Linked DNA regions of Homo sapiens. The protein of the gene in region 1 purifies or fractionates together with the protein of each later gene. This does not show direct contact. Each region holds a gene or a part of one and is shown in the gene's direction. Other genes may lie near its edges.

What was found.
Region 2: the proteins of KLF3 (region 1) and TFRC purify together in Homo sapiens (affinity purification with mass spectrometry, with the first as the bait; one large-scale study listed by BioGRID). This does not show direct contact.
Region 3: the proteins of KLF3 (region 1) and LONP1 purify together in Homo sapiens (affinity purification with mass spectrometry, with the first as the bait; one large-scale study listed by BioGRID). This does not show direct contact.
Region 4: the proteins of KLF3 (region 1) and ATP1A1 purify together in Homo sapiens (affinity purification with mass spectrometry, with the first as the bait; one large-scale study listed by BioGRID). This does not show direct contact.
Region 5: the proteins of KLF3 (region 1) and COX6B1 purify together in Homo sapiens (affinity purification with mass spectrometry, with the first as the bait; one large-scale study listed by BioGRID). This does not show direct contact.
Region 6: the proteins of KLF3 (region 1) and CNBP purify together in Homo sapiens (affinity purification with mass spectrometry; one large-scale study listed by BioGRID and IntAct). This does not show direct contact.
Region 7: the proteins of KLF3 (region 1) and HSP90B1 purify together in Homo sapiens (affinity purification with mass spectrometry, with the first as the bait; one large-scale study listed by BioGRID). This does not show direct contact.

What each region holds. Positions count from the first base shown.
Region 1 is NC_000004.12:38,670,699-38,674,198, forward strand, and holds part of KLF3 (Krueppel-like factor 3), read left to right. Parts: intron 1-3,500. UniProt on the Homo sapiens protein: Binds to the CACCC box of erythroid cell-expressed genes. May play a role in hematopoiesis.
Region 2 is NC_000003.12:196,054,591-196,058,090, reverse strand, and holds part of TFRC (transferrin receptor protein 1), read left to right. Parts: intron 1-2,789; coding exon 2,790-3,011; intron 3,012-3,500. UniProt on the Homo sapiens protein: Cellular uptake of iron occurs via receptor-mediated endocytosis of ligand-occupied transferrin receptor into specialized endosomes. Endosomal acidification leads to iron release.
Region 3 is NC_000019.10:5,706,647-5,710,146, reverse strand, and holds part of LONP1 (lon protease homolog, mitochondrial isoform 1 precursor), read left to right. Parts: intron 1-1,743; coding exon 1,744-1,805; intron 1,806-2,320; coding exon 2,321-2,450; intron 2,451-3,003; coding exon 3,004-3,087; intron 3,088-3,500. UniProt on the Homo sapiens protein: ATP-dependent serine protease that mediates the selective degradation of misfolded, unassembled or oxidatively damaged polypeptides as well as certain short-lived regulatory proteins in the mitochondrial matrix.
Region 4 is NC_000001.11:116,400,744-116,404,243, forward strand, and holds part of ATP1A1 (sodium/potassium-transporting ATPase subunit alpha-1), read left to right. Parts: intron 1-117; coding exon 118-263; exon of another isoform or gene 264-386; coding exon 387-517; intron 518-810; coding exon 811-912; intron 913-3,140; coding exon 3,141-3,232; intron 3,233-3,500. UniProt on the Homo sapiens protein: This is the catalytic component of the active enzyme, which catalyzes the hydrolysis of ATP coupled with the exchange of sodium and potassium ions across the plasma membrane.
Region 5 is NC_000019.10:35,651,323-35,654,822, forward strand, and holds part of COX6B1 (cytochrome c oxidase subunit 6B1), read left to right. Parts: coding exon 1-27; intron 28-3,248; coding exon 3,249-3,349; intron 3,350-3,500. UniProt on the Homo sapiens protein: Component of the cytochrome c oxidase, the last enzyme in the mitochondrial electron transport chain which drives oxidative phosphorylation.
Region 6 is NC_000003.12:129,173,897-129,177,396, reverse strand, and holds part of CNBP (CCHC-type zinc finger nucleic acid binding protein), read left to right. Parts: intron 1-3,500. UniProt on the Homo sapiens protein: Single-stranded DNA-binding protein that preferentially binds to the sterol regulatory element (SRE) sequence 5'-GTGCGGTG-3', and thereby mediates transcriptional repression. Has a role as transactivator of the Myc promoter.
Region 7 is NC_000012.12:103,940,410-103,943,909, forward strand, and holds part of HSP90B1 (endoplasmin precursor), read left to right. Parts: intron 1-1,000; coding exon 1,001-1,138; intron 1,139-1,219; coding exon 1,220-1,297; intron 1,298-1,422; coding exon 1,423-1,488; intron 1,489-2,117; coding exon 2,118-2,387; intron 2,388-2,664; coding exon 2,665-2,910; intron 2,911-3,328; coding exon 3,329-3,465; intron 3,466-3,500.

The sequences.
Region 1 (3,500 bases):
CTTTGCATTTTAGAAGATGAGGTTTCAGGCTGGCTTCACCAGCCGCTGGACAGAGTTTCCATGTAGGACACCTGGTGTACCATCATTCCAGGGCCCTTGCCCTTAATTTATCCTAGCATGTGAGAAGTGTAGTTTGACATCCATTCATTTATTCATCTCACAAGTATTTATTGAGTACCTACTTATTAGAGCTAATCTCAAATTATGTGCAATCATTACTCTGAGTTATGCCATAGGATGGAGTAGATCTACAGTGATCTAACCTGAAAAGGCATTTTGAAATCTTAATTGCCTGCTGGAACCTCCCCCTGGCACTGCTTCCCATGGGCCAGTGTGGCTGTGCACACCCACACCCTCCCTACTGGGGAAAGACCCCAGCATTAGGCGATTTTACCTAAAAGTCGGTCCCACAGCACAGGCTCTGAAGCAGAACAGAAAGTGCCCGGGTCTGCAGGCAGACACGCTTCTGTTCCTGGCTGCAGCTCCAACCAGCTCTGTGAAATTGGGCGAGTCATTTCACCTCTGTTCCTCCATTTCCTCATTTCTAAAATGGGGATGAGGACCTGACCCTTCCACCTTTGTGCAGTTATTATGAGGATTTCCGTATTTACTTGGGTCAAGCTGCCAATTTTTCTCAGCAGTTATATCGACAATGCAGGTGCACTGGCTAGGAAGAATAATTGCCTAATTTGGGGCCTTCAGAATGTGTCTTTTGATCTTGCATCCAAGTGTGCGTACTGAGACAGGGTGGGCAGCAGGGGCCAGTTGGAAGGAGTGGAAACTGTCACTAATGTAAACAGACTGTCCCCACGTTCTGTCTTCTCCGGGGACCAACCTGTTCACAGAAATCACTATCATGTACTTACTGTTGGTGGTGTAATGTTGTCCTCTGCCTGGGGAGGTGGAAGAGTGGTGTGCCAAGGCCACCAGTCTTAAGTCAGACTACCTTGGGTTCAAGTCCTGGCTCTACGAGTTAGCAGCTGTGTGATGTTAGGCAGGTTACTTGACCTCTCTGTTTCAGTGTTCTTTTCAGTAAAACGGGAAGGTAGTAACCACCTCATTGACATTAAACAGCGCCTGGGGATTGCCAATCACGAAGGTGGTGGTGATTGGCAGGAAACCTGTGACATCACTTAGCCCCTTGCCTTCCTTGATCCCTTTTCAAAAACCTGTGTTTGTGCACACACCCCTTCCCCTTGCAGTTCCCCCCCACCTGCCTCCTCTCCTCCCTTTCTCGCTTTCTTTTTTCTATTTTAGATTTTAAAGTACAGTAGAGACCTCGACACTAGACTTGTTTAGAAGACCTCACTGAGTGGATAATAATAAATTATTTGAAGATGGTACTAATAAGGTCTCTGGAGTACACATGATGGGCCAGGCTAAGGTTAGGGGCAATAACTTTTCCTTAGGAAGTTTGGTTTACTAGGTCTCCCTTAGAGTTAGGCCCTTCATCCCTATTACTTGTTTAAGGGAGATTTCAAGTGCATTCAGAGGGAAAGGGAGATGATTGTGGAACTCCTACTATAAGCTAAGTGCTCTTATGTTAGCTCCTTAGGCTTGACATAAAAACTTCATTCAGGGAACAAGCCCGATCTCCTGTGGGGAGTGGGGAGGGAGCCCTCTCAGGAAGGCTGAGGCCTGCCTGTCTGTCCTTCCCAGTACTGGTGGCGGTGTGGGACGCACCACTGGGAAAGCTAAGAGGCCTAGACTATCTAGGTAAGAAGAGGCGGCCTTGGATCCCCCAGGGAGCAATCAGCTGGCTGCACAGAGTGGGGAGGGCCTTGAGCTGGTCTTTGAAGAATTAGGGGGATTTAGATAAGCCGGAAGGGGAGGGGGCATTCCATTGCCGGTTGCCCAGCATCAGGGCCAAAAATGAACAAAGGCCTGGGGGTGGGCAGGGCAGCCGGCATGAAGGGCACTTGTTGGAGCAGGGGGCAGCTCGTGGGTAACGGGGTGCCAAGCATGGGTGCCTGAGCCCACTGTCAGACCCGGGGAGTGCACGGGAGGGAAGGTTGTGAGCTGGAGAAGGATGGGATGAGAAGAGATCTGTGAAAAACGTGGGTGGCAAGGGGTGAGGGCTGGACTGGAGAGGCTGAGGGAGACCAGTGGTGGAAAAGCTGCAGCAATGCAGGTGGGAGGCGCTGAGGGCCTGGCCCCCAAGGCAGGAGGGGAGAGCAAAGGAGGTGAGGAAGGCTTCAGAGATGGCCTCTAGGTTTCCATGGTGAAGGACCAGAAAATAAGGCCAATGGGAGGCGGGGAGGGGGCAGCCTTAGAGGCAGGAACAAGGAGGGGTAGGGTTGGTTTGGGCCACGTTGATAGCAGTGGTTCAAAATGCTTTTCTCTTTCTTTTCTGCTTATTTTTAAAGGGAGAGGGTAGGCTTCGCTCATGGTTTTGTATCCAAAGTTTCAGTGGCTCTCTGGGAGGAACTTCAGTGGAGAATCCTCAGGAGCAGAGGAATGATCACAGCCCCATGGTTCCTTCTGGTTATTTTTAAGATTCTAACCATCCCTGTTCAGGCCGGAATTTCCAGGAACTGGCTGCTGCCCAGCGCCAACTGGTCCCTCCCAACCTCCCACTCCCTGCAGGGTGGGGCCCCATGGGTGGAGGCTCCTTAGGGTGGAGTTGGGTGGGTCTCCAGTGATAGGGAGGGCACTGAGCAGAGGCAGATGAGAGGCAGTGTGGCCTCACGCAGCCCTTCTGGATTTGATTATATAACACTTCATAGAGGAGAATTGTGAGGGCTTAGGCGAGGCCTTGTGAGATATGTACACAGCAGGATTAGACATTATGGGTATTTTTCAATTTATCTTGGGTTGCCTGCCCTTAAAACTAAAACACAAAATTGTCAGAGAGCATAAACAAGTGTGTAACCCTAGTAGGGAAAATGATTCGAGTTTGCTGCAGTTTCTCTAAGAAGGGTGTGGAATGCCACTAGCCAGATGGCCTTGAACTTAGAGGGTAGCATAGGTGTGGGTGTCCCCGCCCCCAGCCCTGCTTTGCTAGGCCTCAGTTTGGAAACTTGTCAGGCTTCTGCTTGGTTGTTACCTTTGCACCTGTCCTTATTGACATGCAAAATCAATTGCTTCACTTGGTCTTTCCGAAGTACAGGGTGTGGGCAGAATCTTATCTGAAGCCATGTCCTGTTTGGACAAGTTGGACTTGCCTTGGCAACTCTCCATAGGGTGGAGCAGATGGGTGGAGGCAGGAAAGTAAAATTGGGTGGCTTGTTAGCAGAGAGAGGAGAGAGGGTGGGTTGTTTGCTCACTGGATCATTATATTTCATCTGAAATGAAATAATTAACTTCTTTCCCATTTATAATACACATTAATGCAAAATAACTAATTCATGAGGGGCGAAGATTTAGAAACACCCCATGGAATTTTTCTCCTTTTCAAACCAGTCATAGAAGAGTAGGACAGGTGAAAATCACAGAGTGGCATGAAAATTTCCAAGAATGTCTAGGTAGGAAATTCCAGGTAGGTGCCAGTGCTTAGCTTT
Region 2 (3,500 bases), on another chromosome or scaffold:
GGCTACCAAGATCAATAACAAGGATGACACCAGTCCAAGGTTGACAGGCAGTTGCTAGGCAGATTTTCTCACGAGAGAAGTTTTTTGGTGCAAGGTTGCAGTGGCCTTTGTGTAAGGTTGTAGTTTTTGTAAAAAGGAAAAAAAAAAACCCTTAATCCTTGTTATCAGACATACAAGGGTGAGACCCTTCTCTTCAGGGTTGCATTTTTGTTAACACTAGTGACTCCATTTTGATTTTGACAACTTGCACATATCTTAGTTGTTGGGTTTTTTTTGTTTGTTTTTTGTTTTGTTTTTTTTTTTTTTTTTGACAATGGTGACTTGCTCTGTCACCCAGGCTGGGGTGCAGTGGCCCGATCATGGCTCACTGCAGCCTCAAGCAGTCCTCCCCCTTCAGCCTCCAAACTGTTTGGATTATAGGCAAGAGCTACTTACTACACCTGGCCATGGATCTTCTTGTGTCAACTTTGAGACCAAATTTACTGCAGTGCTTAAAATGTTTTAAGAAGTTATACACATGTGCTGGATGTGGTAGCTCACGCCTGTAATCCTGTAGCAGGACAAGCCGCAGACAAATCCCCTCAGACACCGAGTTAAAGAAGGAAGGGCTTTATTTGGCTGGGAGCTTTGGCAAGACTCACGTCTCCAAAAACTGAGCTCCCCGAGTGAGCAATTCCTGACCTTTTTAAGGGCTTACAACTAAGGGAGTCTGCGTGAGAGGGTCGTGATCAATTGGGCAAGCAGGGGGTACGTGACTGGGGGTTGCATGCACCGGTAATTAGAACAGAACAGAACAGGACGGGATTTTCACAGTGCTTTTCTATACAATGTCTGGAATCTATAGATAACATAACTGGTTAGGTCAGGGCTCGATCTTTAACCAGGACCAGGGTGCGGCAGCGCTGGGCTGTCCACCTCTGCCTTTTAGTTTTTACTTCTTCTTTCTTTGGAGGCAGAAATTGGGCATAAGACAATATGAGGGGTGGTCTCCTCCCTTAATCCCAGCACTTTGGGAGGCCAAGGAAGGCGGATTACGAAGTCAGGAGTTTGAGACTAGCCTGACCAAAATGGTGAAACCCCGTCTCTGCTAAAAATACAAAAATTAGTCGGACATAGTGGCGTGTGCCTGTAACCCCAGCTACTCAGGAGGCTGAGGCAGGAGAATCGCTTGAACCTGGGAGGCAGAGGTTGCAGTGAGCTGAGATGGAGCCACTGCACTGCAGCTTGGGTGACAGAGCAAGACCCTGTCTCAAAAAAAAAAGTTATACACATGTAATTATTGCATGTTCCTTCATTATTAGTTTTAACATAGACTTGTTAATCTCAATTAGCTTAATTAGCATTTGAGTTTATTGCTAAAACTTCTTTATGAGTTTTAATAATGAGGCTTGGCCGAGTGTGGTGGGTCATACCTGTAATCCCAGCATTTGGGAGGCCAAGGCGGGTAGATCACTTGAGGTCAGGAGTTCAAGACCAGCCTGGCCAACATGGTTAAACCCCATCTCTACTAAAAATACAAAAAAATTAGCTGGGCATGGTGGCACATGCCTATAATCCCAGCTGCTCAGGAGGCTGAGGTGGAAGAATCGCTTGAACCCAGGGGGCAGAGGTTGCAGTGAGCCGAGATCGTGCCATTGCACTCTAGCCTGGGCAACAGAGCAAGATCGTCTAACAACAACAAAAAAAAAACCAAGGCTGAATTTCTTGAGTGATTGAGCAGTGGCTATCTATTGGACAGTCCAGCTGAACAGTATTTTCCTCAGGCTGGGTGCAGTAACTCACACCTATAATTCCGGCACATTGGGTGGCTGAGGTGGGCAGATCACTTGAGGCCAGGAGTGAGACCAGCCTGGGTAACGTGCCTAGACTATATCTCTACAAAAAATTTTTTAAATTAAGTGGCCCAGTGGCCAGCTGTAGTCCCAACTCCTTGGGAGGCTGAGGCAGGGGGGTCACTTGAGCTAGGAGCTTAAGGCTGTGGGGAGCCATGATTGCATCACCACGCTCCAGCCTGGGTGACAGAGTGACCTCGTCTCAAGGCTGCAGGGAGCCATGATTGCATCACTGCACTCCAGCCTGGGTGACAGAGAGAGGCCTCGTCTCAAGGCTGCGGGGAGCTGTGATTGCATCACTGCACTCTAGCCTGGGTGACAGAGTGACCTCGTCTCAAGGCTAGAGGGAGCCATGATTGCATCACTGCACTCCAGCCTGGGTGACAGAGAGAGACCTCGTCTCAAGGCTGCAGGGAGTCATGATTGCATCGCTGCACTCTAGCCTGGGTGACAGAGACCTTGTCTCAAGGCTGCGGGGAGTCATGATTGCATTGCTGCACTCTAGCCTGGGTGACAGAGAGACCTTGTCTCAAGGCTGTGGGGAGTCGTGATTGCATCACTGCACTCTAGCCTGGGTGACAGAGAGACCTCGTCTCAAGGTATGTTTCATGTATCTTCTCTTTTTTCATTGATAAAGGCCCAAACTTCCCAGAGAGAAAAACATACAGCCTTAAGGAATTTGGCTAGAAGTCTATTCAGGGCATATGATACGATAGAACAGGGATTCTGTAGAACCTGGAAGAAAGTAGTCACTCTAGGAGTAGGTTAGCTTGAGAGAAGTAGCAAGAATGTACTTAAAGCAGCAGATAATGAGATAGAATTGGGGTAAATTGCGGTAGGAATATGTTAGAAGCAAGGGTGGAACTGTCGTCACTGTTACCTCGATGGCGAAGCCAGAATGTGAGGCTCTTGCTCTTAGAACTCACGTGAGTACCATAGCCTCGCGTTGTCTTGCAGGACACAGATTATCCTTATTTGGGTACCACCATGGACACCTATAAGGAACTGATTGAGAGGATTCCTGAGTTGAACAAAGTGGCACGAGCAGCTGCAGAGGTCGCTGGTCAGTTCGTGATTAAACTAACCCATGATGTTGAATTGAACCTGGACTATGAGAGGTACAACAGCCAACTGCTTTCATTTGTGAGGGATCTGAACCAATACAGAGCAGACATAAAGGTGAGCACTGATTCCAATTACGTTTTTATTTTGCTGAATGTCAAGTATTTTGAAATGTGATGTGTTCCTGTGTGTTCCTGTTGGAAGGGTGATTGTAGCCATAGTACATTTTAAAGTGAACTGAGGTATAATTGTATGTAGAATTGGTAACTTGTTTGAGAGAAGTCGGGAGGCTGTGGATTAGAGACCTAGGACAGAGCTCAGCAGGTGTTTCAGAATCCAGAGCAGTGTCAGGTTTTCTGTCACTCATGTCTCCCAGGCAGCCCGTCAGTAGGACACGGAATATGAAGATCTCAGCAAGGAGTTGGGCTGTGTGCCTCTCGGGCGTGACCCGGATGGAAAGACAGCACAGCTAGCAGGATTCCATCTCGTAGTGATCTGCGCATCTAAAAGTCAAATATTCTATTAAACGAAACTGATAAGCAGGGTGAGGTGGTGCATACCCGTAGCCCCAGCTACTTCTGCTGAGGCAGGAGGATTGCTGGAGTC
Region 3 (3,500 bases), on another chromosome or scaffold:
GCACTATTGCATTCCAGCCTGGGCAACAAGAGCAAAACTCTGTCTCAAAAAAAAAAAAAAAAAATTCAGACAGCCACCAGCGGCTACACTGTCCTGGGCAGCTCAGCATTGGGGCATTCCCTGTGAGAATCTTGCAACAGGGGGAAGACAGCGACCAAACTTACAAATGTGATTAGAACTGGCAAGACCCCTTAGGGGCAGCGAACTTGTTCTTTTTTTTTTTTTTTTTTTTTTTTTTTGAGATGGAGCCTCTGTCGCCCAGGCTGGAGTGCAGTGGCGTGATCTCGGCTCACCGCAAGCTCCACCTCCCGGGTTCACACCATTCTCCTGCCTCAGCCTCCCCAGTAGCTGGGACTACAGGTGCCCGCCACCACACCCGGCTAATTTTTTGTGTATTTTTTAGTAGAGACGGGGTTTCACCGTGTTAGCCAGGATGGTCTGGATCTCCTGACCTCGTGATCCGCCCGCCTTAGCATCCCAAAGTGCTGGGGTTACAGGCGTGAGCCACTGTGCCCAGCTGAACTTATTCTTAAAGCAAGTGCCCCGGACCTCCAGTGGGCCTGTTCTGGTGCCTTCTACCAGGGTCAGCTCAGACAGTTCAGCGTCAAAGCCAAAGACTAGAGACCAGGTGATTACGGTTTCTTTGGAGACAGAGTCTCACCCTGTCACTCAGACTGGAGTGCACTGGCGCAATCTTGGCTCATGGCAACCTCCGCCTCCTGGGTTCAAGTGATTCTCCTGCCTCGGCCTCCTTAGTAGCTGGGATTACAGTCACCCACCAAAGTACCTGGCTAATTTTTTTTTTTTTTTTGGTATTTTTAGTGGAGATGGGGTTTCACCGTGTTGGCCAGGCTGGTCTTGAGCTCCTGGCCTCAAGTGACCCACCTAACTCTGCCTCCCAAAGTGTTGGTGTTACAGGTGTGAGCCACCGCGCCCGGCCAAGACCAGGTGATTAAAATTTGGTTGTAGGCAGGTGCAGTTGCTTATGCCCGTGGTCCCAGCTACTCCGGAAAATGAGCGGGGAGGATCGCTTGAGCCCAAGAATTCAAGGCTGCAGTGAGTCATGATTGCAGCCCTGCACGCCAGCCTGGGTGACAGAGCAAGACTTGGTCTTTTTTTTTTTTTTTTTTTTTTGAGACAGAGTCTCGCTCTTTCGCCCAGGTTGGAGTGCAGTGGCGCGATCTCGGCTCACTGCAAGCTCCATCTCCTGGGTTCACGCCATTCTCCTGCCTCAGCCTCCCGAGTAGCTGGGACTACAGGCGCCCGCCATCACGCCCGCCTAATTTTTGTATTTTTTGGTAGAGACGGGGTTTCACTGTGTTAGCCAGGAGGGTCTCGATCTCCTGACCTCATGATCCACCCGCCTCGGCCTCCCAAAGTGCTTGGATTACAGGCGTGAGCCACCACGCCCGGCCAAGACTTGGTCTCTTAAAAAATGGAGGAAAGAAAACACAGTCTCTTTTTTTCCCCTGAGATAGCTTATCCTAAGGACAAGGCTCTGAGGGGTAAGGAGACAGGGTTTGGTTTTAGTTTTGACTCTCTTGGTCCTGTGTCCCTGGGACTGGTGAGTCCACCAGGGACTGCACTCCTCCATCTCCCAGGCCGTCCGTGGCCAGGGCCAGTTGGCGGAGGGGAGGGAGTTGATGGAGCTGGTGGGTGGGGCTCCCAGGGCCATGCTCCCACCCAGCCCACCCCCTGCTGGAGCACTGCTGGGCCCCAGCGACCCTGCCCCATACTTGGCAGGCCCTGACTGCAGAGATCGTGAAGACCATCCGGGACATCATTGCCTTGAACCCTCTCTACAGGTGGGCCTCTGTGCGGGCAGCTGGCCAGGCGGGGGCATCTCTGCAGCTCTTTCTGCAGCTGGGTGGGTAGGGGGCTTCCTCAGCGTCCTCCTGGGAGGAAACCTTGCCTGCCCCAAGGAGTGGCCTGTGTGGAGGAGCCCGTTGCCCACTGGGGCATGGGGCAGGTGGGAGGCCCGGGGCCGACTCAGCAGGCCCAGTTTCTTTGTCCCCTTCTGCTGAGGCCGGAAGCTGTTGGTGGCATTGGCTGGGGGAGTGGGGAGCAGACTGCTGAGGTGAGGTCACTGCACGGCTCCCGTGGTGGCTGCACGTGAGGATGCTGCATGCCTTTCCAGCCCAGGACGGGTGGGCCCTGAACTCTGGAGAACAAGCAGCAGAGCTGGCTCCCAGCGAGCACCCCTAGACCGTGCCCATAGCTACAGGGGACAGGGACCCTGAGGACCGGGTCCCCGTTTGGGGGCTGCACTGCAGCAGAGCGTGAGGCCCTGGCCACCGAGGCAGCTCCCTTTGTCCCCCAGGGAGTCAGTGCTGCAGATGATGCAGGCTGGCCAGCGGGTGGTGGACAACCCCATCTACCTGAGCGACATGGGCGCCGCGCTCACCGGGGCCGAGTCCCATGAGCTGCAGGACGTCCTGGAAGAGACCAATGTGAGTGCTCGTCACCTCCACAGCCCCCCACGCCTGGCTGCACCCCACCTCCACTATGCTCCGCCCACGCCCGGCTGCCCCCGTTCCTCCTCAGCTCCCCCATGCCTGGCTGCCCTTGTCCCTCCACCGTGCACCATCCACACCCAGCTGTGTGTCCCTGGCTCTGTTTTTGAGATGATTTCCCGCTGCGTGTCTTGGTCCACATCCATCCGCCTTTCGGTGGCTTCATAGCCTTCGGTTGGGAGTCACCGTTGCGGGTTCAGTGGGATCCTCTGGGCCGTGTACCCGGGGCGTTGCCAGTCTTTTGCTGTTGTGAGCAGCACTCCTGAGCGCGTCCCCATGCACGCAGCTGGAGGGCCTGTGAAGTATCCGTAGGATGCGTTTCCAGCACGGGATTTGTTGGGGCAGAGGGCACACATGCCTCTGTGCTGGGTACAGCATGGCCAGGTCCTCCCGGCAGCATCTCTCAGGGTGCGCATTTTCCCCCAACCTCGGCCCTACACACACAGATGCCGACTTCTGCTCATCCTTTCTGTCCTCCCTGTCTCGGCAGATTCCTAAGCGGCTGTACAAGGCCCTCTCCCTGCTGAAGAAGGAATTTGAACTGAGCAAGCTGCAGCAGCGCCTGGGGCGGGAGGTGAGCCCGCGGCTGAGGCGCAGCCACTCTTGGGGGCCTTCCCCTCGGGCCACGTGACATCAGTCAGGCTCTGGAGCACACGGAGGGACCGGTGGCATCGGCCAGGGCAAGCCAAGAAGGCCTGTCTGGGTTTTGAGGGCTTCGTGCCATCATCTGCTCTGTCGTCCTGGGCTGTGGAACTCTCCGCGTTGAACAGGGAAGCTTAAAGCTGGTCCCAGTGTAATGAGCCCAGGGTGGAGCAGTCTCAGGACCGTCCAACATTAAGGGAAGAATTCCTTTGCCTTTGTAATCTTGGGGACAGTGTTGGAAATTGGAAAGCAGCCTGGGAAAAGTGAAGATGCTGTTTCTTAAGACCCAGCCATTGAGGCTCGCTGTCATGATTTTCGGCAGATCACAGCCTGCCTGATGGCCGG
Region 4 (3,500 bases), on another chromosome or scaffold:
CAGGGGGAAACACTCCTCCATATGTGCTCTCCCAGGCCTGCTGCAGTAATCAGCTGAAGGCTATACAGGTACCCTTGTGTGTGAGGTTCTAGTAATTGGGTTGTTTTCCCAACTTAGGAATGATCCAGGCCCTGGGAGGCTTCTTTACTTACTTTGTGATTCTGGCTGAGAACGGCTTCCTCCCAATTCACCTGTTGGGCCTCCGAGTGGACTGGGATGACCGCTGGATCAACGATGTGGAAGACAGCTACGGGCAGCAGTGGGTGAGTGGGCACCTCTGACCTGACCAGTGTCAGAGCTCCTCAAGCCCCAGAAGACTGAGGCCACACTGCCACCAGCCATGCAGGTGAAGAGCCAGAGCTCATCTTCTGTCTTCTGCATTTCAGACCTATGAGCAGAGGAAAATCGTGGAGTTCACCTGCCACACAGCCTTCTTCGTCAGTATCGTGGTGGTGCAGTGGGCCGACTTGGTCATCTGTAAGACCAGGAGGAATTCGGTCTTCCAGCAGGGGATGAAGTAAGTAATGAAGGACATGTCAAGGCCTTGGCTCAAAGAAGGGGACTGGTGATTTGTAAACCCTTTGCCAAAAACTAAACATATGACACATATAGCCAGGTTTCTGGAATCTCTAGTTTATAGAGCAAATTTAGGAAGCAAGAAATGTAGCTTTCTAGTTTTTTCATCTGACCTCCAAGTTTTCAAGTACAGCTAATACATAAAGATGTTGATCTGCCATTTTAATGCATAGCATTAGAAGATAAACCTTTATTTGCACCTTTTAAGTTTTTTCTCCCCTACTTTGATTTTAGGAACAAGATCTTGATATTTGGCCTCTTTGAAGAGACAGCCCTGGCTGCTTTCCTTTCCTACTGCCCTGGAATGGGTGTTGCTCTTAGGATGTATCCCCTCAAGTAAGTTGATCCTCTGGTAGCTCCAAAAAGTATGAAATAGTATGTGTGGCTTTTCCCCCCATTACTTGTGGTAATAGTTGTTATTTTCAGAATTTTGAGTGGTATGTACAAAAATTCCTATGGGTTGGAAAACTGTGAAAGCTTGACATGTCAGTAAATCAGACTAACAAATCCTGAGGCTTCCATGATAGCAGCTAGTGTTTAGGATTTGGCCCAAGATAAGATAAAGCCACACAGGCTCTAGCTCCATGGAACTGCTCAACAGCGAACTGCATTGAGCACTCAGGTCTGCCACAGCTGTAGTCCAGTTGTCTTTAGAGGCCAACTGGGGGTATGCTGGAGCGTAGGCGCCCAGGCTCAAATCTTGATTTGCTTGCTTAGTCACTGTCCCATTACAAGTCATCCACCTTTCTGAGACTCTGAATACTCTGCTCTCAAAGAAAGAAGGTTGGAGAAACAGATCTGAGGTCCCTTTTACTTTATAATCAGTCATGGGTAGAGTTGATCAAAGGAAGCATACTGCTAGTCTTTGGCCTTAAACACAGTGAATGACTCTGCATTTCAGATAAACTTGAATTTTCAAAGAGGGTTTATCACAAACTCCGTTAGTTTTTTGCAACATTGAGTATGTTTGGTGATACCTGGTTGAGGTTAAGCAACTGCAACTTGATTAAAACGTGCAAAGCCACAGATTGTGGGACCCATTTACAAGTTCCTTTGAAGCTTTTGATTTAAAGCATTAGTCTCCTTTGAATTCCTGCTGTCCTCATCCTTGCTCAGACCCGTCTGGACCATCTCTCAATCCCCTGTTGCCAGCACTTCCTTCAGCTCATCTTATCCCTAAAGTAACCAAAACCCATCAGCCTCATTCACTTCCTGTGGGTTATGTGCAGACATCGTCTGTGGTGCAAGATGAGACTGGCATCCAGAGTCAGTCTCATTGTCCCAACCTGTCTTTATAGCTTTCTCTTGTACCCCTTACCCATCCAAGCTCATGTTAGGTGAATTCGGCTTTCTTCCTCTGCCTTTGTGTTTGGTAAGATCCTTCCTCCCCACATCCCTCCTTCTGTTCCCTCTTACCCTGCCAATCCTGATAGTCCCTTCAGGGCCGGTTTCCTTGGAGCTTGTCCCTCCAGGGCCTGTGCACTTGCACCTCTTCTCTGGCATTACTTGTTGCTTGTCATTTCACCTCCCTGCTAGGTTTTAATCTAGAAGGCATGGGCCACAGTGTCTTTCTTCTCTGTGCATCCCCAGCTCCCTACACAAAGCTGGTGTACAGCAGGGGCCAGCCATCTCCAAATTGAATTCTGTCAGCTTGGGCCATTATGTATCAAGATGGGGCTTGGAGAGGTCACAGAGCTTTCCAAAAAGGCTGGTGGAAAATTACACTGAAAAGGGGGCATTTCCATCTTCTGGGTCCTTCCCTGGTTTTTTTGCCACCACCAAAGAGATTGTTCTGACAGGTTCTGCCCAATTTTGGAAGGTGGTTCAGTTATTCGGTGACTGAGTCAAATGAGATCATCTCTCTTAGCTGCCTTGTCAGACACACAGGAAGAAGAGGAGACCACCGGAGTCCTGCCCAGGGACAGCCTTTCTCACACCATAGCAGGGAGCTGGTGATCACGGAGGCTGCCTGGAGCCTGTCAGCAGGCTAGAGACTGTGTGGCTCAGCCTCCAGGCCCCTTGGAAGCCTTCGGGCTCAGCTTTTTTCAGTCCCCAGGACCAGGCCTCAGAACACAGAGCTGATATCCCAAATGCTGTTGTCAGAGATCAAATTTGGGGAATGCATAAACTGGTTTTGACCCACACTGGCAGGTCTTTATCTTCAAAATGCTGGGATATTAGGCAGATGGTCTTAAAAAGCTTCTTAAACACTTTAGAAATGAAAGAAAGAAAATGTTCAGTTGCTCTGGGATGGTTAACAGAAAAGTACTCTGCTCATCCTATAAACCAAGTCTTATGAAATCCAAACTGAAGATGAGTAGGGATTCCATTACAAAGTCTGCAGACTGATTTCCTCTGCGTCTCTAGGCCCTGGGCACATGGAGTAGCAATCTGTTTTAAGACATTTTTATTTGTTCTGTTAATGACTCAGTAGTTAACTGTGACTGTACTTGGCTTCTCCTTTCAGGCTGATTATTTCATTGTCACTGGTGATGTGCAATTTCTCTTTCTTTATTTGAACTGTGTTCGTGTGCATATAAATTGGTACCTTACTCTATTTCCAGACCTACCTGGTGGTTCTGTGCCTTCCCCTACTCTCTTCTCATCTTCGTATATGACGAAGTCAGAAAACTCATCATCAGGCGACGCCCTGGCGGTAATTATGGGCATTCTGACTTTGGTTGGAGGAGGAGTGGGAGGGGCTATAGTTCTATTGGTTTTTTGTTTCCCTCAAGGTGTCTAGGCTCCCTCAGTGGTCAGTCTGATTAGCTAAGGTGACTGGACCAGCAAACTGACCATAGTCACATCTTCAGAATGTAGATCTCAGTTACAGTTTGAGGACTGGTCATGTTTTAGACTTTAAAATACAAACCAAGTATGATTTAGTGAAAACTTGTCAGAATCTAAACCATCTTTCCAGGTAA
Region 5 (3,500 bases), on another chromosome or scaffold:
CTAGAAACTGCTGGCAGAACTACCTGGGTAAGCAGGACCTTTCCCTGGCCACATACCTCGAGTCACTCACCGCTTGCCTCTTCCTAGGGGACCCATCCACCCCAGCCTCCTCCCTTTTATTCTGAACATCCTTACTCTGGAAGGCCCATGCCTCTCATCACCTGCTGTTCAGGTCCAGGCTAGGGTTACAAACTTTAGTTCCTGCAATGATTTTTTTTTTAATTTAAATTTTTTATTATTATTATGGTTTGGTTTTGTTTTTTTCCAGAGATGGGGTCTCACTTTGTCACCTAGGCTGGAGTGCAGTGGTGCAATCATAGCTCACTGCAGCCTCAACCTCCTGGGCTCAAGAGGTCCCCCTACCTCAGCCTCTCGAGTAGCTGGGACCACAGGCCCACACTACTGTACTTGGCTAATTTTTTTGTAGAGAAGAGGTCTCAGTTTGTTGCCCAGGCTGGTCTCAAACTCTTGGCTTCATGCGCTCTTCCTGCCTCAGCTTCTCAAAGTGTTGGGATTATAGGTGTGAGCCACCGTGCCTGGCCCCTACAATGATTTTTTTTTAAGCTGTATGTGTGTGCGTACTGTAACATGTACAGAAAGCACATAACAAACATGTACAGCTAAATGAATAATTCTAAAGTGAACCCCTTGTGCAACCATAACCTGGAGAGAAAAGCAGACATTGCCCACACTCTCATCTCCCTGCCTTCTTTTTTTTTTTTTTGAGATGGAGTTTTGCTCTTGTTGCCCAGGCTGGAGTGCAATGGTGCAATCTTGGCTCACTGCAACCTCCGCCTCCCAGGTTCAAGCAATTCTCCTGCCTCAGTCCCCCAAGTAGCTGGGATTACAGGCACCTGCCACCACACCCAGCTAATTTTTTGTATTTTTAGTAGAGACGGGGTTTCTCCATGTTGGTCAGGCTGGTCTCAAACTCCTGACCTCAGGTGATCCACCCGCCTCGGCCTCCCAAAATGCTGGGATTACAGGCATGAGCCACCGCGCCTGGCCTCCCCACCTTCTTTATGTCCTGTCTGGAACACAGCACCCCGCTCTCCCCAGTAGAGAAGTGACGCCACTAACTGGGGGTTATCACATCTTTGTTTTTGGTTTTGGTTTTTGTTTTTGAGACTGAGTTTTTTGTTTTCGTTGCCCAGGCTGGAGTGCAATGTCACGATCTCGGCTCACTGCAACCTCTTCTGCCTGCTGGGTTCAAGCAATTCTCCTGTCTCAGCCTCACTAGTAGCTGGGATTACAGGCACCCGCCACCATGCCCAGCTAATTTTTTGTATTTTTTTTTTTTTTTAGTAAAGACAAGGTTTCACCATGTTGATCAGGCTGATCTTGAACTCCTGACCTCAGGTGATCCACCCACCTCAGCCTCCCAAAGTGCTGGAATTACAGGCGTGAGCCACTGTGCCCGGCCTCACATCTTTGTTTTTTACCACCATGTTTATTATTTTATTTTATTTTATATATGTTATGTTGTTATGTTATTGATGGAGTCTGTTTCTTGTTGCCCAAGTTGGAGTGCAATGGCACGATCTCAGCTCATTGCAACCTCTGCCTCCCGGGTTCAAGTGATTCTCCTGCCTCAGCCTCCTGAGTAGCTGGGAATACAGGCGCTCGCCACCACACCCAGCTAATTTTTTTTTTTTTTTTTTTTTGAGACGGAGTCTCGCTTTGTCGCCCAGGTTGGAGTGCAGTGGTGCAATCTCGACTCACTGCAACCTCCGCCTCCCAGCTTCAAGCACTTCTCTGCCTCAGCCTGCCGAGTAGCTGGGATTACAGTCGCCTGCCACCATGCCTGGCTAATTTTTTTTTTTTGTATTTTTAGTAGAGACAGGGTTTTACCATCTTGGCCAGGCTGGTCTTAAACTCCTGACCTCGTGATCCACCCCCCTCAGCCTCCCAAAGTGCTGAGATTACAGGTGTAAGCCACCATGCCTGGCCAATTTTATTTATTTATTTGAGACAGAGTCTCGCTCTGTTGCCCAGGCTGGAGTGCAGTGGTACAACCTTGGCTCACTGCAACCTCCGCCTCCCGGGTTTAAGCAATTCTCCTGCCTCAGCTTCCTGAGTAGCTGGGACTACAGGCGCGTGCCACCATGCCCGGCTAATTTTTTGTGTTTTTAGTAGAGACAGGATTTCACCATGTTGGCCAGGCTGGTCTCGATCTCCTGACCTCATGATCTGCCTGCCTCGGCCTCCCAAAGTGCTGAGATTACAGGCGTGAGCCACCGTGCCTGGCCAATTTTTTGTATTTTTTTTTTTTTTTTGAGATGGAGTCTCGCTCTGTCGCCCAGGCTGGAGTGCAGTGGCGTGATCTCGGCTCCCTGCAAGCTCCGCCTCCTGGGTTCACACCATTCTCCTGCCTCAGCCTCCCGAGTAGCTGGGACTACAGGTGCCCGCCACCGCGCCCAGCTAATTTTTTGTATTTTTAGTAGAGATGGGGTTTCACCGTGGTCTCTATCTCCTGACCTCGTGATCTGCCTGCCTCGGCCTCCCAAAGTGCTGGGATTACAGGCATGAGCCACTAGGTCCAGCCACTTTTTTGTATTTTTAATAGAGACAGGGCTTCACCATGTTGTCCAGGCTGGTCTCGAACTCCTACCCTCAAGTGATCCACCTGCCTTAGCTTCCCAAAGTGCTGGGATTACAGGCCTGAGCCACCATGCCCGGCTACCACCGTGTTTAGATTCACCTCTTTGTGAACTTTATACATACTGTGTGTATTCTTTTGTGTTTGGATTTTTTCATTCAGTACCTTCTCAGATCCATACATGCTGTGGCATATAGCTTGCTCATTTTCATTGCTGTCCAGTTTTCTACAATTTATTCTATGCCTGTACACTTGTGTGATTTCCATTTTGGAGTTCTTACAAATGGTGTGGCTGTAAACATCTTTATAAATGTAATTTTGCTGGGTGCAGTGGCTCACGCCTGTAATCCTAGCACTTTGGGAGGCCGAGGTGGGCAGATCAAGACCAGCCTGGCCAACATGGCGAAACCCTGTCTCTACTAAAAATACAAAAATTAGCTGGGCATGGTGGCAGGTGCCTGTAATCCCAGCTACTTGAGAGGCTGAGGCAGGAGAATCACTTGAACCCAGGAGGAGGTAGAGGTTGCAGTGAGCTGAGATCGCACCACTGCACTCCAGCCTGAGTGACAGATTGAGACCCTACCTCAAAAAAAAAAAAAAATGTGTTCCAACTCTTGATCTGGGCTGACTTGAACCCCTTTCTTCACAGACTTCCACCGCTGTCAGAAGGCAATGACCGCTAAAGGAGGCGATATCTCTGTGTGCGAATGGTACCAGCGTGTGTACCAGTCCCTCTGCCCCACATCCTGGGTATGTGCCTCCTGCCAGGGCCCTTGGGATGCTGGGGTGGGGTCTTAGCAGAGGGGAGTGTGGTGGCTTGGTGGGAGCTCATCTGTGAGGGGCAGAGGGAGGACAGGGCACCACACTGTCCCAGGACTCAGTGCCTTTCCTCCCGCCTAGA
Region 6 (3,500 bases), on another chromosome or scaffold:
GTAACACAGCAAGTAGTTAAACTGGGTTAAGTGATTAACCCAGGTTGAGTATGGTTCCAAAATCTCTTACAGTGTCAGGCAGGCTACATCAGTGCAGTATACGTACATCAGGTTTCACGAAAAATTTTTTCCAGAGAAAACACAAACCCAAGGAACCTTCAGTAAGTGGTGCCTTATATTAGTGGTTTTTAGCAAAAGGAAGAAACTTAAGTGTTTTCCTGCTGCCTGACAAAAGTGAAAAACAGTATTTTGGTTTTTATTGAAGTTAGCATGTATGTTTGTAGCTTGCATAAAATAGTACTGAAATCCAATTGATTATGAATTCTTGGACTAACAGAACCTGGATGACAAATTAGAGGTTCTGGCCTGGTTGCTGGCTTTTTTAGTTGTCTTGGGTGTAAATTTCTCAGCCACACGTGGGGATTGTGTTAGATAATCTGAAATCTAATTTTCATGGTTTTATGATTCAGCAGCTTTCTTCCTTTGATATTTTCTAGTATTTGCTTTATTATAGATTGGAATCCTCAAAATAACATTGACAAGTAGAAGATACTTCTGTTAGTGGATTTAAAAAAAAATTACATTGGGAATGTCCTTTGAGTGGTTGGCCCTAATCCCTGTCAGAAGCTGAAAGTTGTGGATCCTAAATTCATCTGGGCAGAATCTCACCTATGATTTCAGAAAGCTGAGAGTTTCAGAGAGTGACTGTAGTCAGTCCTTAGTGAGTACAAAATTGAGAATACATCATTACTTTAAATTAATGGTGCAGTAACTCTTGTGACTGATAGCAATAATTTAGGTGCTTTGTTGTTAGTACTTGATTAGATTGGATTGGGTCAGTTAGTTTCACCAAATTGCTAAAGACACCTGTCCCCCTAGAATTAAAATACTGAGTTACATAATGGCTACTAAAAGGATAACTATATGGGGTGTTCGATGATTCAAAGGTGAATTACTTGGTCTCTACCTTCAAGGAATATGATACAAGGCAATATGGTACTGCCATTAGACAGATATTAACAAAGTGTCTTGGGACTTAATAGGGAGGGTAGTTCCAGGCTGGGAGATGTAGTCAGATTCTTTTATAGAGTTGGCATTTGAGTTGGCCCGTGAAGGTTGGAAAAAGTTGTGACAGGTGGAAAAGGAGCAGGGGAGACCAGGACAGTGCAGTGAAATTCCAGCCAGGAGCAGTCACAGGCAATGAGACAGACTCATGGAGCCATGATTCTCAGCTGTCTTACCTTACCTTAGTTTTCCTAAGGAATATCATGGAATTCTGTAAAGACCTTTAAACTAAATAATGTTCATATGAGATGAGTGCTAGGATGGGGACCTGCTGCCTAATATAAGTAGTGTGAGTCTAAAACATTGTGGAAAGTGGTTAGTTTAATAATGTTATTAAAGAGACAAGTCTATCACAAGGGACCAGTTACCAGTGAAACTGTAGACCACCTGATTCACTGCGATAGGGTTAGCCAAAGGGAGGAGAGGGCAGATTGCATACATAGTACCTAAGGCCACTCAAAGACCTCTTTTAAAATCACGTGTCATGTTGATGACATTTGGAGGCTATTAATGTTTTTCTTCCCTTTTAAGACTTAGTGTTTTCTTTATTAGCATTAATTTACTCTAGTAAACAAAATTATGTGTGACTAAAAATGGCAAAACAGGCTGGGCGCAGTGGCTCACGCCTGTAATCCTAACACTTTGGGAGGCCAAGGCGGGTGGATCACTAGGTCAGGAGATCGAGACCATCCTGGCCAACATGGTGAAACCCCGTCTCTACTAAAATACAAAAAATTACCTGGGCGTGGTGGTGCACGCCTGTAGTCCCAGCTATGTGGGAGGCTGAGGCAGGGGAATCGCTTGAACCCAGGAGGTGAAGGTTGCAGTGAGCCAAGATGGCGCCACCGCACTCCAGCCTGGTGACAGAGCGAGACTGTCTCAAAAAAAAAAAAAAAAAAGCAAAACATCTAAAACTTCTGTTATATTCTAGTGTGTAAAGTTCTGCCTTTGCCACTGAGATGCATATCTGTTTTACAGAATAGTTTTTTTTCTTTCTTTCTTTCTTTGAAGACGGAGTCTTGCTCTGTCACCCAGGTTGGAGTGTGGTGGCCCAGTCTCAGCTCACTGCAACCTCCACCTCCCGGGTTCAAGCGATTCTCCTGCCTCAGCCTCTCGAGTAGCTAGGACTACAGGCGCGTTACCACCACGCCTGGGTAATTTTTTTATTTTAGTAGATTTGGGGTTTCACCATGTTGGCCAGGATGGTCTTGATTTCCTGACCTCATGATCCGCCTGCCTCCCAAAGTGCTGAGATTACAGGCGTGAGCCACCACGCCTGCCCTAATTTTGTGTTTTTAGTAGAGATGGAGTTTCACTGTGTTGGTCAGGCTGATGTCCAACTCCTGACCTCAGGTGATCCTCCTGCCTTGGCGTCCCAAAGTGCTGGGATTACAGGTGTGAGCCACTGTGCCCATCCTTGTTTTGTATTTTCTAAAAGAGATGTATCTTGTTTAAATATTAAATTATAAGATATTCAGGCCTTGCAAATTGTCTGGATTACACTGTAAAAGTAATCATTTATGTGCAAATAATTCCTTGAGATCAATAGTTAAATGAGCTCAAGCTGATCTGACTAAATTGGAGAAGATACAAAATGAAGATGGGGAGGAAGTGGTGCCATAAGCAGCCTTTTTTCTTTGACCATTTTATATGCCTTTTTTTTTTTTTTTTTGAGATGGAGTTTCACTCTTGTAACCCACGTTGGAGTGCAATTGCTTGGCTTGCAACAACCTCCACCTCCCGGGTTCAAGAGATTATCCTGCCTCCGCCTCCTGAGTAGCTGGGATTATAGGCATGAGCCACCAAGCCTGGCTAATTTTGCATTTTTAGTAGAGACGGGGTTTCTCCTTCTTGGTGAGGCTGGTCTCGAACTCCCAACCTCAGGTGAACCATCCTCGTCGGCCTCCCAAAGTGCTGGGATTACAGGTGTGAGCCACCGTGCCCTGCCCGCCATTCGTTTTTTTTTTTTTTTTTTTTTTTTTAATTCTGACTCTTCTGTGGTGGAAACCAGCAAATACTTCACATAATTTAGGATGCTAATACTAGTACAGTTAAAAGAATGATTACAAAGCAGATACTATTTCAAATTCTGTAAAAATCTGTTTTTAATATCCTTCACTGGCTGTTTGTTCTGACTAGAAATGTTTTGTATATCTGAAAGCACCAGTAACTCATAGCCATATAATTTTTTTGGTAATATGTTCATAGGCAAGTGGCAAGAGTTAGTAGAAAGATTTCTCTAAGAATTTATCCTAAATCAGATTACACAGAGTTGGGGTAAGTGAGTATTGTGTTATTTTCTTTTGTATATTTGACAATGGGAACTTTTTGAAACTCAACTTCAGTGTAATTTTAAGTCACTAAATTTGTCCACAAGTTAATGATTAAACAGTTACTGAAAGTGGAGAACCTTGCCATTTTTCGGACTGCGTTTT
Region 7 (3,500 bases), on another chromosome or scaffold:
TGTTTAAAGTTAATGTTTCCCCAGCAGCATTTAGTACAAGCAGTAGAATGCTCTAGTGGACTTAACCATAGCTAAATAAAACTTAATATTCTGTGTCTGTATTTGTTCTTTTCTCTATTCCATATCCTTTAAATTTCAACTCTTAAAACACTGTTGGTTCTGCCTTCACTTTTATTTCCATAAACTCTAAAGTCCTAGTGTCTATAAACTTACTTCATATAAAGCAGCTGTATTAGAAATATAATTAATGTGAGCCACACATGATTTGAAATTTTTTAGAAGCCATACAAAAAAAGGAACCATGAAATGTTAATAGTATAATTTATTTAACCCAGCATACCCCAAATAGTATTATTTCAACATAATCAATATAAAAACTAATAATGAGACATTTTATATCCTTTTTAAAATTTGTACTGTGCCTTCAAAATGTATTTTACACTTTAATAGCACATCTGAATTTGAACTAGCTACATTTCAGTGCTTAACAGCCATATACAGTAATAGATAATGCAGATCAAGAGAATTTCCAACTTTGTTTTACAGGTATTTACATACATCTTTGTAGCCACTCTTAGAGCTAAGTTCCATGGAAGAAACATGTTCTTGAGTACTTACTGTAGTTCAAGGGCACACTGAAGTGTTGTATGTAATTTTGTCATTTAGGCAGGGTGGTGGTTTTCCTATTCACTTCTCTCATACGTAAGAAGTATAAACTCATCCTTCCTTCTGAGAGTTTAGGAAATAATGTTATTGACAATCATCATCAAAACAACCATGTCTAGTGAATTAGAATTGCAATTCTAGATATTTCTTCACTCCACCCTTTTCTTTCTCTTCCCCCCACCCTTTTCTTTCTCTTCCCCACCTCCCGCCAGTAAAGGAAAATTTTTTGTTAGTTAATTGCTAAACTGAATATGTACCACATAGTACATTGCTTAGTTCTTGCACTGCTTTTCTCCTGTGTCGTTTGAATGACTAAGATACCAACTTTCCACAGGAAAGTGATGACCCCATGGCTTATATTCACTTTACTGCTGAAGGGGAAGTTACCTTCAAATCAATTTTATTTGTACCCACATCTGCTCCACGTGGTCTGTTTGACGAATATGGATCTAAAAAGAGCGATTACATTAAGGTGAGTTTTTAAGTAGTACATGCTGCGTTTAAAATTTGAAAGTTTAATTTCCAGAAAGTGACTTTTTTTTGGTCTCTTTAGCTCTATGTGCGCCGTGTATTCATCACAGACGACTTCCATGATATGATGCCTAAATACCTCAATTTTGTCAAGGGTGTGGTAAGTATCTGAAGTTTGGGAGAAGGGGTGATTGTTGTGGGGGTCTGGCAGTGTAGAGTGTTTGTTTGGCTTTGCTTTCTTCCAGTGGTTTTATTGCTCACTGAACTTTCTTTTGCCATCTGAAGGTGGACTCAGATGATCTCCCCTTGAATGTTTCCCGCGAGACTCTTCAGCAACATAAACTGCTTAAGGTAAGTGTCTCTGGGAAGAAACTCTCCACTTTGCTGTTTGATTGGGGTTCAGAGGACAGGCTCCATTTGTGGAGTAAAACCAGATTTTGGGTCTGGTCCATGATTCTTCAGATGAATTTCCTTTCTTTCTGGAGTTATCAGATCCTAAGAATCTGATTCTTTTTCTCCCAACATTTAATAATGAAGTTTCAAACATCTAGAAAAAAATTAAAGAATTGTACAGGTCCAGGATTAACATTTTGTCATCTAGACACATAGCCACCTTTTTATCAAGCCTTTCATTAAACCTTTCCCCTCCAATACTTCCATAATTAGAAGACTCTTTAGTTTTTGAATTTAAAAGTATTTGAAAGTAGCATATTTGTTCACTTCATTTAGATGCTAGAGAGAGAGTATCACTGAGTCCTAAGGTTAGAATATAAACATTAAGGCAATCTTGTGGCTATTTGCACGGACAGCTGAATTTCAGCCCAATCTGAATGAATTGGAGTGCTTCACCATTTCCTGCCCCTCAATAAATGGCAATAACGATATCGTCTTTGTGTTTTTCACACTCCTGCCTGGGTACCTTACATTCTCAAAAGTTGGAGATTAACTTCTCTAATCAGTTATTCTTTCATTGTGTTTAGGTGATTAGGAAGAAGCTTGTTCGTAAAACGCTGGACATGATCAAGAAGATTGCTGATGATAAATACAATGATACTTTTTGGAAAGAATTTGGTACCAACATCAAGCTTGGTGTGATTGAAGACCACTCGAATCGAACACGTCTTGCTAAACTTCTTAGGTTCCAGTCTTCTCATCATCCAACTGACATTACTAGCCTAGACCAGTATGTGGAAAGAATGAAGGAAAAACAAGACAAAATCTACTTCATGGCTGGGTCCAGCAGAAAAGAGGTGAGATGAACTCATAAGTGTTGTCAGCCATTCTGGAAGGTAGCTAGGGATTTATAGCCAACTCTTGAGGGGGAGAAAAGGAAAACTTAATTGTGTAACTGGAGTAGTTATAAGGCCTGGTCAGTCACTGACAGGAAGGTCATTTATATTCTCTGAACCTCTTAATTCTTCACCTGTAAAATGGAGTTTTTAATAATGTATAAACATAGCAGCTGCTAGGATAAACAAATACACCAGGGCCAGACTTGGAAAACTTTGTGACTTCTTAATTTTGTAGGCTGAATCTTCTCCATTTGTTGAGCGACTTCTGAAAAAGGGCTATGAAGTTATTTACCTCACAGAACCTGTGGATGAATACTGTATTCAGGCCCTTCCCGAATTTGATGGGAAGAGGTTCCAGAATGTTGCCAAGGAAGGAGTGAAGTTCGATGAAAGTGAGAAAACTAAGGAGAGTCGTGAAGCAGTTGAGAAAGAATTTGAGCCTCTGCTGAATTGGATGAAAGATAAAGCCCTTAAGGACAAGGTACTGTGGAAATTACAAATTGTGGAAATATTAGTATCAGCATTTAAGAGAAAGTTATTTTGTGAACAAATTAAGCTGCAGCTGGTTACTTTGTAACCATTAGAATGGTAAAAATTTAATTAATGTAATTAAATTATTGGGAGAAAGCTTAAAACTTTCGACAATACTGCTTTGTTAATAACTTGTTACAAATTAAATTTTATGTTTTTAAAAGGTGGTATTTAAACTTCTGACTAGAAAATTCAGATTATCAAGTAAGTGCCCCTACAAATTCTCCTAAACCTTAAGAAAAGCTATTTTTATGACCTGCTTCTGTGTTTATGATCTTAAGTGATAAAGTCTTAGACAGTTGAAAGACAATTGCTCAATGACCTTACCTGTTGATATTAATTTATATGACTTGATTTCTTTCCCTAAGATTGAAAAGGCTGTGGTGTCTCAGCGCCTGACAGAATCTCCGTGTGCTTTGGTGGCCAGCCAGTACGGATGGTCTGGCAACATGGAGAGAATCATGAAAGCACAAGCGTACCAAACGGGCAAGGACATCTCTACAAAGTAAGCATCCTCGGGAAAGTCCCTGCCAGGGCGTT